Regions from separate parts of the Homo sapiens genome. Here region 2 is linked to region 1. The links come from fine-mapping of genetic effects on plasma protein levels. A gene starts in region 1. The other region holds a variant in brackets. All regions are shown on one strand. Distances are between the middles of the regions. Region 1 holds the start of TNFAIP6 (TNF alpha induced protein 6). Region 2 overlaps NMI (N-myc and STAT interactor).

Evidence for each region. A credible set is the group of variants that fine-mapping cannot tell apart. PIP is the posterior inclusion probability: the model's chance that the variant is causal. Protein levels are from the aptamer-based SomaScan assay of Sun 2018.
Region 2: its variant is the best candidate, but not a certain one, in a credible set for the plasma level of the TNFAIP6 protein (Sun 2018, PIP 0.71).

Annotation. Positions count from the first base shown.
Region 1 is chr2:151,352,438-151,360,971 of GRCh38, forward strand. It overlaps TNFAIP6 (TNF alpha induced protein 6), which reads left to right and starts at 5,155. Exons shown (of 6, transcript NM_007115.4): 1 at 5,155-5,323. The coding sequence starts at 5,230. All of the region lies in intron 2 of LOC101929319 (a long non-coding RNA gene), which reads right to left.
Region 2 is chr2:151,272,502-151,276,499 of GRCh38, forward strand. NMI (N-myc and STAT interactor) reads right to left here. Exons shown (of 8, transcript NM_004688.3): 5 at 3,257-3,363; 6 at 2,983-3,169. Among named protein-coding and RNA genes, the nearest start is that of RBM43, 13 kb to the left of the region's middle. The variant C/G (reference allele first, on the strand shown) is at 1,030.

The DNA.
Region 1 (8,534 bases):
TCATAGGTCATAGAAATTTTTCCTGAAAGCCGATGGAAGTAAGACTTACTCTGTAGGCCTCAGTTTAAGGATGAGCCAAAGTTTTAAGGATTTCAGGTTACGAAGGTGTGATGATGTTCACTTATAGTTCCAGCCACTCAGGAGGCTGAGGCAGGAGAATCACTTGAGCACAGAAGTTGGAGGTCAGCCTGGGCAACATAGCAAGACCTCACTTCTCAAATAATAAATGAATAAATAAGGGCAGCATAGCAGTGATTTACAACAGGTAGAATTTGAGCCAGCTGATCTCTTGGTTTCTAACACTGAGTTCGGTGATTCCCTGACTAGTTAGAGAAGACAAGAGGCAAGGAAAGAAGACATGTTTTCAAGACTTAGAGGAACAGGAAGCAGTCTGATTGGAATAAATGCATATGGGGGGGGTACTGGTCAATAAATTTGGAGAGGCAAATCATAGATCGAGGAGCTGTGTGTTATTAGGAGTTTGGGAGGTGGGCAGAGGAAGAATATTAAATCCATTAATCACTGTCTTCTTTTCCTCATTCTTATTTCCTCCTCTTCGTATTTCTCCTTCTTGTCTTAGTTTTTGCATCTGAATGTCCTTAGACTGCTAACCTTTTAAACTTACCCTTTGTTTTAATATCTATATTAGCTCACTTCTTCCTACAAATCAGGATAGATTGTTATGCTAGCAGTAATAAATGACCCCAAAATCTCAATAACGTAAAATAACAAAAGTTTATAGTTCATTCATGTTATATAAAATCCAGGGATCAATTGGAATCAGGGTGAAAGAGCAGCTGTCATCACAAATGTTTCCCGCCATGCCAGAAGGAAAGAGTTCTGGAGCATTAGCAATCAAATTCTCACTCTAAGATGACATACATAATTTTTGCTCACATCTCATTAGCCAAAAATAATCACATGGTTCCACCAAACCACAGAGGGACACACATACAATGCTATCATGTTTGCTGGAAGTTGACAAGCTGGAAATATTTGGTGAAGATTACTAACAACTGTCACACTGCATTAACAACTGGAAGTCCGACATCAATTTTGGATCTCTTTCTGACATCTGTTTACCCATAAACTTGAAAGTGCATTATTCCATTCGGTGTTGTACATAGGCTCATATTCACTGTCTCAAAGCTTTTTGATATACAATAATTAAATAGGCTGGGCATGGTGTCTGATGCCTATAATCCCAGCACTTTGGGAGGCCGAGGTGGGCAGATCACTGGAAGTCAGGAGTTCGAGACCAGCCTGGCCAACATGGAGAAACCCCATCTTTACTAAAAATACAAAATTAGCCGGGCATGGTGGCGCATGCCTGTAATCCCAGCTACTCGGGAGGCTGAGGCAGAACTGCTTGAACCTGGGAGGTGGAGGTTGCAGTGAGCCGAGATTGTGATTGCACTCCAGCCTGGGCAACAAGAGCGAAACTCTGTCTCAAAAAAATAAATAAATAAATATTTCACTTTTCCAAAGATTTCCCATTGTTCTAGTTAGGCTCTATCCTGCTCACTGACCCTGTAAAAGTTTGCACTGATTATTGAATGAACGAGTACAATGCCACATGTTTCATTTCTTTAAGTATGTTCTATGTCACACATAAGAATTTCTCTCCAATCATTTTAAGTCACACTCAAGGGGAATGGGTTTTTCTTCATTTATTGCTTTTATTCCTATCCTAGTCCATGTGGAGATTCTGGGATGGGTGGGGCATTCCTGTATTGCAATTTTATGTCCTTATTGGCAGTGTTAAAAATGTCCTGTATTGACATATTTTGTGATTCACGGAGCTCCACCCTTTGCTAATCTCATCTTGGTTTTTTTCCTGCTCTTTCCAAGATTGCAACATATGCTTAATAAAGGATATAATTTATATTTTAATTTTCATACAGTGTATCAAAGAATTGCATTTTTGCACATCTTGCCATTCAAATCCAGTCTTAAGTATAATCAGACATGTTGTCTTAGAACCTGTTTTCCTTCTCTCTTTCTTTTTCTCCTGTCTATATTCACCTGACACTTCTCCATCCCTTTTTCCTGTCAGCTGAGACTCAGCATGTCAAAAGGATATAAAATATTTCCTCTTAACTGCTAATAGATGTTTAAAATTCTACTTTAGCGTCTCTCTTGCTGTTTTTTTTCTTTCGAGACAGCATATCGCTCTGTTGCCCAGGCTATAGTGTAGTGATATGATCATAGTTCACTGAAGCCTCCAACTCCTAGGCTCAAGTGATCCTCCTGCCTCAGCCTCCTGAATAGCTGGGACTGCAAGCACACACCACCACACTGGCTAGTGTCTCATTTTTTCAGTTAACTTTGTGCAATAGTGACATCATTAACTATCGTGGCAGCTTAAGAGATCTTAAGCTTGTTCAGTGCAGCCCTATCCCAATTCAGATATGGAGTTCTCTCCACCATGCCTTTAGGTATCTAATAGCTGCTTAGGCTTACGGGCATTGGAACATTGTAGAAAAGCAACCAAAACAGGAACTCCTCTACAAAAAGCAGTCTTGCTGGGTTTTCAGCTAGTGGTGATATGTGCGAAAGGAGCCACTGCACATCTTGACCCAGAGATAGTGGAAGGGGAGGGCATTCCTCTGAGAAGGCAAAATACTTGACTGGTTAAGTCTTCCAGAACCTTGAAAGGAACTTTTTTTTTCTTTTTTTAAGATGGAGTCTGGCTCTGGCACCCAGGCTGGAGTGCCGTGGCGCGATCTTGGCTCACTGTAACTTCCGCCTCCCGGGTTCAAGCGATTCTCCTGCCTCAGCCTCCTGAGTAGCTGGGATTACAGAAGCAAGCCACCACACCCAGTTAATTTTTGTATTTTTAGTAGAGACGGGGTTTCACCATATTGGTCTGGCTGGTCTCAAACTCCTGACCTCGTGATCCTCCTGCCTCGACCTCCCAAAGTGTTGGAATTACAGGCATGAGCCACTGCATCCGGCCTGAAAGGAACTTTTATCAGTGTATCTTCTCTCAGCTCCTCATGAGGCTTATCCTGGGTGGTGTGTGCTGGAGGCTGGGCAGAGGGTGCTTCTTAGACAACTTCCAAGGTAAGTTCATAGGCAACATTTCCTTTGCTACTCTCTCTTTTCTTCTCTCTCGTCCTCAGGATTACCCTCTGCATCTTTTCCATATGAAAACCCCATTTCCTCTTTCCTTTATTGAATGCCCCTCAAAATCAGAACTTACATCATTAGGCATTATTCTCTATTTCCTTGATGATATGGAGGATGAGATTTTCAGACACTATGCAGAGGTAAGGGGAAATATTTATATTCTGCATGAGAGTTGGGAGAGGGGAGAAAGAAATCCTCCACCCCAGATCGGGTTAATTCATCAAAGCAACTCATTAAATTTTCGTGTTAAAAGAAGTTGAACATTCACACTTCGCTCTACTTGGAGCTTCATTAAAATGCAAATGAACACAGAAGGGTATCTGTTCTTAGTTATCTGGCCTAACTAAAGATTAATTGCAAACCCTTTCCTGAGAGTAATTTTTGATAAATGAGAACTAGGGGGAAATTAGGTGCTTGAGAGAGATGCAGAAAGGGCACAGCTGGAGGATGTGACAAGAAAAGAATTGGAAAGACTATGGGAAGGTTTTGCTGTAGCACTGCACAACTAAAGTTATATTTACTTCCTAAACCACAAACTTAAAATACGCATATAATTATACTTTCCAAAGAAATATCATGGTTTATTCCTTCCAACTACCTATGAATCTTGCTCTCAGTAACCATGCCTGTCTTCTCCATAGTCACACCCACCTGGTCTAAACTATACCTTTCTCTTTTGCAACAAACTTAAATTCACTAACCCTATCTGTGAACTTGGATACAATTCCCTCATCTTTCATGTGCCACCAGTCCAAAATAAAGATTTTCAATGCTAGTAACTTTATGTATACCTCAGTGAGCATCCAATAAATTCTGTACTCTCAGCCTACATCCCCATAACTGCTCTTTTGAGAAGAGATGAGACCAGAACACACCTGAGATGTTCAAAGCAAAGATGTCTAAGGGATTCAAAGCTAACTTCAAACCAGAGCATGTCTAGCAAGTTGGCTTTTTCAAAGAACTCCAACATCATTGGAGGGACTAAGAAAGCATGGGAGAAATGAATGCTATAATAGGAGTGAATGGGAAGCAATTTGAGACCAAAAGTAGAGAATCTAAGTAGCAAAAAATGACCAATTTTGTAAAAAAATCAAAAGTTGCCAATAAATGGCTATCAATGAACAATAGGAAATGCCATTAGCATCAGCGGTAGTGGGAGTATTATCAGATATGTTACCCAAGGATTCTACACAAAGGAAGAGGAAAGTTTGGGATATTTGAAGACATGATGACTTTACTGTAATAATTATTATCTATTACCTTGATCGTCTTCTTCAAAGTTAGAGTGGTCTAGGGAAGCTAGGGACAAGTTTTTATTAACTTTGTTAGTCTACCCACCTTTCTCCCAACACTTCAAGAATTTGTGGCCTGGGAAAACTGTGTTATAATAGGACATCCCAAAGCTGCTGGAACATCCTGACGCTCTGAAATTGAAATACTTTTCTGGGAGCTGATACATTTATTTAGCTGCTGACCATAACACACCAAAGACTGCAACAGACCCCACCCTGGAAGAAAAGCAGGCAGAGAATAAGGAAGTCATATATCACTGGAGAAAAATTAGGATTCTCCAAGCTGTGCATACTTTTTGTTTTAAATTTTTTACACAGGCTTGACAATGTTTAGAAAAGCCAGTCCAACATTACCAATAAAAGATTAGTGTTTAACCCCATATCCCATAATTGACACTGCAAATAAGACATTTAGGATTTATCTTGAAATTCCTACTGAAGTTCGATTTTCTTTTAATCACTGCTAAATCTGCATCAAGTTACACAAACTTTCTAACAGAAAAGTGTTTGTGACTAACAATAAATGAACTCCGTTCTTAGTAAGTTAATTTTAAAACATAGATGATCATTCTATCTCCTTAGTTTTGGTTGCCAATGCAAATGAGTCAGAGGATTTGCTTCAGACACTGAGATAATTGTGTAACTCTACAGCGGAAAATGCCATTGGAGAGTACTTGCTGACCTCACAGTTGAAAAAAACTATTTAAAAGATGTGGAAACCAGATGTTTCAGTCACATTTCAGCCACTGCTCTGAGAATTTGTGAGCAGCCCCTAACAGGCTGTTACTTCACTACAACTGACGATATGATCATCTTAATTTACTTATTTCTCTTGCTATGGGAAGACACTCAAGGATGGGGATTCAAGGATGGAATTTTTCATAACTCCATATGGCTTGGTAAGAACCTTCACTCATGAGCCTCTTGTTGAGAATGTCAATTCTTTAAATCATGGAGAAGGAAATTTAAAGCAGTAACTTTTTCTATTCTGTACAAGGCTGATGTTCTCAAAGAAAATGCTTAGGAAAGATAGCCTTTGGAATACATACGCTTTTTTTTTTTTAAGCGTTCTTGTCCTCTAAAATTTAAAAATAGCATTTTATAAAGTGAATTGTTCAGTAGAAAATAGCAGTTAATATTTATATTCAGTATGAAAATATATTTTTAAACTTTTCAAAGCAGATGTAGTAGTACAGTGAGGAGTATTTCTTTAACCAACTAGAAACTCCAATATAGTCTTCTGTTTTTATGTCAATGCATTTGCAATCAGATTTCAGAATCCTAACAGGTAAATTGGAGTCTACGAAAATTTTATAATAATTGCTTCATGGACTCTGAGCTATAGTCTATATCTTAGTTTTTTCAAACATTTTGACTATTTTGACCAAGCCAGCTTGCAGTACAGAAAAAAGTGAAAAATGTTTCTCCTTCTGAATGCATTCTTACCACTTTGATTCTTTCTGTTTCTACTATCCATATAAATACTTTTCTGACCCTTTTGTTAGACAAGGAAAGTTTCTTTTGTTATTTTGTTTTGTTAAATGTAAGGAATGAGACAGGCCAAACAGTGAAGATAAACAATAGATCAAAAAAGGAAAATGCAGAAAATCCAAAACACCCCTTAGATTACAGTATGCTAAACAATGCTTTAATTCTCATGATACAAATTGATATTGCTCTATGTTCATTATTGTGTTTAATAGTAAAAAAAAATTGAATTTCTTGGGGAAAAATGCATAGATTCTTGCATAGAATAAAGAAATAAAGAGAAGGCGAAATTAACCTAGATTTTGATTTTATGCTTTCTAAACAGCACAGTTGTAGAATATTTTCCCTTTCAGCATGTTTCTCTCTGGTAATAACTGCAACCATGCGGATTTCATTAAAAAGCCTAATTTGTAATGCACAGCCTTGCCGCCTATTTTTTTCAGCTTGAGCCAGTGAACTAATTTCACTGTGATCCATTTGGCCAAGACGGGATCTGAAATTTAGTAGAGGAATGAGCCCATCTCTTTATTTTAGTTGAATACAGTCAAATATAGGAAATACACTCATATTTGTCAGGATTTTTTTTAAATGTCATAAAGCTAGTAAGAATTAAATCCAGGCAGATAAACTTTGAAATATTATCAAACCCTCTAATAATCAAGTAATTTAGAGTTGTCTTTTAAAGTGTTGTCATATGTTACAAAAATATAAACCTGGACAATAGAAGTTTTGCCCCAGAGGTAGAGAGAAGCAAATTCAAACGTCTATTAATGTATGCTACAAATCTGAGGGTCAGGATAATTGCAAATTGCTTCAATCTGGGGCAAATTTTTGACCAGCCAGCCTAGCACAGATGTTTATAGTTGGTTGGATCAATATAATCTTTTTAGAAACCATTTAGGAAGGAAAGATAGTTGGATTAGAAGGGATACATCTGTTAGCAACTATCAAGAACAGGACACTTTAAATCTAGGGTGTCCCATCTTTTGCCTTCCCTGGGCCACATTGGAAGAAGAATTGTCTTGGGCAACTCATAATTTTTTTTTTTTTTTTTTTTGAGGCAGAGTCTCGCTCTGTTGCCCACGCTGGAGTGCAGTGGCACCATCTCGGCTCACTCCAAGCTCCGCCTCCCAGGTTCACGCCATTCTCCTGCCTCAGCCTCCCAAGTAGCTGGGACTACAGGCACCCGCCACCACGCCTGGCTAATTTTTTGTATTTTTAGTAGAGACAGAGTTTCACCATGTTAGCCAGGGTGGTCTCAATCTCCTGACCTCGTGATCCGCCCACCTTGGCCTCCCAAAGTGCTGGGATTATAGGCGTGAGCCACCGCACCTGGCCCAGGGAACTCATAATGTTTTAAGAAAGTTTACAAATTTGTGTTGGGCCACATTCAAAGCCGTCCTGGCAGGCCGCAAGTTGGACAAGTTTACTTTAAATTCTCTAGGTTATGGTTCCAATCTGGTAAAATGATAAGGTTGAAGTAAAGGATCCCTAAGGCTTATTTTAACTCTGGTATCATCTAATTTTTAAAATAGTACTTAAAACAAAAACAAACCACAGTTAAGGACAAGAAATTACAATCATTTTACATGGATCATGAGAATAAAAAATGCACAGATAAGCAATTATTTTTATTGTTGAATCTGAAAAAGAAGGGAAAGGAAGGTGGGATGCAGTGGTTCACACCTGTAATCCTAGCACTGTGGGAGTCTGAGGTGGGCAGATTGCTTGACCCCAGGAATTAAAAAGACCAGCCTGGGCAACATAGAGAAACTCTGTCTCTACCAAAAAAAACACAATTAACTGGGTGTGGTGGTGCATGCCTGTAGTCCTAGCTACTCAGGAGGCTGAAGTGGAAGGATCACTTGAGCCCAAGAGGCAGACGTTGCAGTGAGCCGTGACCTCACCACTGCACTCAAGCCTGGGTGACAGAGTGAGACCTTGTCTCAGAGAAAAAAAAAGAAAGAAAGGAAAAGTGACGTATCTTGAGTTCCTTCTATGGTCCAGAAGCTATCATTAGTCCCATTTGACAAATGAGGAAACTGAGGCTCATCTGGTTATACAACTCCATGGTAGAAACAGCAGTGGAACCAAAGTCCATTTCTACTGCCGCCACTCACTAAAAGGAGAAAACATTTATTAAACAAATTTTCAGTTTTAATAAATGACTATTGACTAGATAAATTAATAAAATATTATTGCTTCTGAAAGGTAAAATTAGGATTCATTGTACAAAGGTCCATCTTAATAGCTCAAAATTCTGAATTGAGAAATATTTTTAATAAAACACCTTATTTAAAATTGTCAGGTACATACTCCAAGAGTTCTCTATTTGTTCATATGGCAACATACTGGGAAGTTTGGCGCTATTAGAGGAACAATGTGGAATGTTAATATTTAATAAATTAAATCAGAAATTATAACAAAAATTTTTTGCTATTTCTGTTATTATGTTATTACTAGACAAGTTTCAGTAGGTACCAAAAGTTTAAGAAAAATTACTGAGGGTGGGAGAAGGGAGAGGAACAGAGGTACTGGGTTTAATTCCTGGGTGATGAAATAATCTGTACAGCAAACCCCTGTGATGTGAGTTTACCTATGTAACAAACCTGCACATGTACC
Region 2 (3,998 bases), 82 kb before region 1:
AGAAAACAGTATGACAGTTCCCCAAAATATTAAAATAGAACATGATATGATCCAGCAATTCAACTTCTGGGTATATACCCGAAACAACTGAAAGCAGGGACTCGGACAGATACTTGCTCGTTAATGCTCAGAGCAGTATTTTTCACAATAGGCAAAAGGTGGAAGCAACCCAAGCATCCACCAACAGATGAACAGATCAACAAAATGGATATATAAAATACACACACACACAGAGAATATTATTCAGCCTTTAAAAAGGATGAAATTCTGATACATACCACAACATGGATGGACCCTGATAACATTATGCTAACCAAAATAAGACAGACAGGAAAAGGACAAATATTGTATAATTCCACTTGAATGAGGTACCTAGAATAGGCAAATTCATAGAGACAGAAAGTAGAATGATGGTTACCAGGGGCTGGAAGAAGAGGTAATGGAGAATTATTGTTAAATGGGTACAGAGTTTCAGTTTGGGGTGATTAAAAAGTTCTAGAGATGGATAGTGGTGATGGTTGTACAACATTGTGAATGTACTTAGTACCCTTGAATTGTACATTTAAAAATTGTTAAAATGGTAAATTTTATGTTATATATATTTTATCACAGTTAAAAAAAAAAAAAAGAGTACAGGTCCTGAGTCAAATAGACCAGCTTCAGTCCTAGCTCTGCTACTTATGAGCTATGTGGCCTTGGATATGTTGCTTGACTTCTTAAAGCCTCAGTTTCTTTTTCTGTAAAATAAGCATAATTACAGTACCTACCCTGTAGATTATTGTGATGAGTCAGTAAGACACAGTTTATGAAGTATCTGGCATATTTATCTCCAGAATACCTTCACATCCTTCAGTAGTTACCTGCTGGATAACCTATAACCTGCAGAAGTATTTTTCCCATCTGGCTAGATGTAACCTCTAGGAGAACATCCCCAGATGGCCCAAGGACACAGGTTCCAAAGCTAGTATTATCTCTCACAGTAGAGTTATAAATTGCATTCTAGTTTATTTTATTTTATTTATTTTATTT[C/G]GGTTTTTTTGAGACCGAGTCTCACTCTGTCACCCAGGCTGGAGTGCAGTGATGCAATCTCAGCTCCCTGCAACCTCCACCCCCCAGGTTCAAGCAATTCTCCTGCCTCAGCCTCCCAAGTAGTTGGGACTATAGGCGTGAGCCAGCACATCCGCTAATTTTTGTATTTTTGGTGGAGAAGGGGTCTCGCGATGTTGGCCAGGCTGGTCTTGAACTCCTGGCCTCAAGTGATCCACCCGCCTCCGCCTCCCAAAGTGCTGGGATTATAGGCATGAGCCACTGCGCCTGGCCAGATTTTTTAAAATCCAAGATATAGACAAACTAACACCAAACAGGCTAAATGAATATATGAATTTGGCAAATTAAAATCTGGATGCTTGACTATGGAAGTTTCCACCAAGTTATTGTTCATTTCCAAGACAACATATTACTGTAGCCCTCAAGACCCCTTCCTTTTATAGCTCTCCCTGACACATCCCACCAGGATGTCCTAAACATCATCCAAAAGCTCAGGTCAAAAATGCATATTGGGCCAGGAGCGGCGGCTCATGCTTGTAATCCCAGCACTTTGGGAAGCCAAGGCGGGCGTATCACTTGAAGTCAGGAGTTCGAGACCAACCTGACCAACATGGTGAAACCCCGTCTCTACCAAAAATACAAAAATTAGTCAGGCATGGTGGCATGCACTTGTAATTCCAGCTACTCGGGAGGCTGAGGTGGGAGAATTGCTTGAACCCGGGAAGCGGAGGTTGCAGTGAGCTGAGATAGTGCCACTGCACTCCAGCCCGGGCGACAGAGCAAGACTCTGTCTCACAAAAAAAAAAAAAAAAAAAAAAAAAAAAAGGATATTGACATGTTTTAATGTGCCCAGAGAAAAGCCTGGAAAGACACCCAAATAACCATAACTAACTAAATAGTAGGAGAAAGGGAAGTTTGAGGAAATGTCTCTTTTTGTTTTTTTTTGAGACGGAGTCTCACTCTGTCGCCCAAGCTGGAGTGCAGTGGCGTAGTCTCGGCTCACTGCAACCTCCACCTCCTGGGTTCAAGCTATTCTCCTGCCTGAGCCCCCCGAGTAGCTGGGATTACAGGCATGCGCCACCACACCTGGCTAATTTTTTTGTATTTTTAGTAGAGACGGGGTTTCACCATGTTAGTCAGGCTGGTCTCGAACTCCTCACCTCATGATCTGCCTGCCTCGGCCTCCCAAAGTGCTGGGATTACAGGCATGAGCCACCGGGCCCGGCCGAAATGTCTCATTTTTACTAAATGTTTGCTCTTCTGTATTATTTCACCTTCCTTAAAAAAGCATGTATTACTTTGTCATGAAAAAATCTAATCCATCAATTTTTTTTTTTAATTTTGTTTTTTGAGACAGGGTCTCACTCTGTCTCCCAGGCTGTAGTGCAGTGGTGCAATCACAGGTCACTGCAGCCTCAACCTCCTGGCCTCAAGTAATCCTCCCACCTCAGCCTCCTGAGTAGCTGGGACCACAGGCACGCACCACTATGCCTGGTGATCTCAGCTCACTGCAACCTCCACCTCCTGGGTTCAAGTGATTCTCCCTGCCTCAGCCTCCCAAGTAGCTGGGATTACAGGCACTTGCCACCATGCCTGGCTAATTTTTGTATTTTTAGTAGAGATGGGGTTTCGCCATGTTGGACAGGCTGGTCTTGAACTCCTGACCTCAAGTGATCCGCCTGCCTCCGCCTCCCAAAGTGCTGGGATTACAGGGGTGAGCCACTGCACCCTGCCTATTTGTAGCAATATTATCTTTCCTAGTACTGTCCCTGGAAATAATTTCCTACACTCTACTATTTTATAAGGTTTTTTAAAATCCCCAATTATCATGCTAATACATTCCAAATAAAAGAAGTAGAATAGGAATACTTTCAGAAACAACAGAACATGACTGAAATGGCAGAGTGTCTGTTAACCTTCTACACCCTTGAGTACCTCCAATCTCCACAAACGTGATGACTGCACTCCCGGACTGTCTGTCATAGTCCACGCGGTCCACCTCTCCGCCTCCATTTCGGGACTTTGAAAAGCTCAGCTCTAGTTTGTCTCTCATTTGATCTTCACGCAATGTGTCAGGAATTTCAGTAACATTGATTTTCATTTTAGAAACTTCTACATAAACCTGGAAAATGATTTGATGTTCAGAAATATGGATGAGAGAAGTGCTTGTGATGAACAGAAATCCAAAAAATTTTAATCATCCTGTTACCTGGAATCTGACTCCTGAATTTAATGGAACTGGCTTGGCCGTAACCTCCAGATTTACATCTTTTATCTGTACATGATGTTTACTCATGCTTACCACATTTTGAGCAACTGAAAAATAATTCAGGAAGGAAGTATTAATTTCCAATATTTTAAGAATTGTTATGCTTTTGGTTTAAGAACAAATTATCCTGAATATTTTTAATTTTCTTTAATATTAAAGGGTCTAATTTTAAAAATTTGGCGGGCGGTGATTCCAAGTGATAATGGTCTTGCTACCAAAGTAGAATATATAATTTGGGGGGTCAGGGGGAAGGAGGACCAGATCTCATTCTGTCACTGAAGCTGGAATGCAGTGATGTGATCATAGCTCACTGTAACCTCAAACTCCTGGGCTCAAGAGATCCTCCCACCTCAGCTTCCAGAATAGCTATGATTACAGGTGCATGCCACCACGCCTAGCTAATTTTTTTAACTTTTTGTAGAGACGAGCTCTCACTTTGTTACCCAGGCTGCTCTGGAACTCCTGGACTCAAGCAATCCTCCTGCATCGGACTCCCAGACAAAGTTCTGGTATTATCAGGATGAGCCACTGCTCTTGGTCCCAAAGTAGAATATATTAATGTCAAAGTATATCAGCAAAATCACAATGTAGAAGTTCTCAAGTTCTAGATTCTTCTCATAAGATGAATCTTTTCTCTTATCTCTTAAGAGATAAGCCTAACAATCTTCCAGAATTCATATAT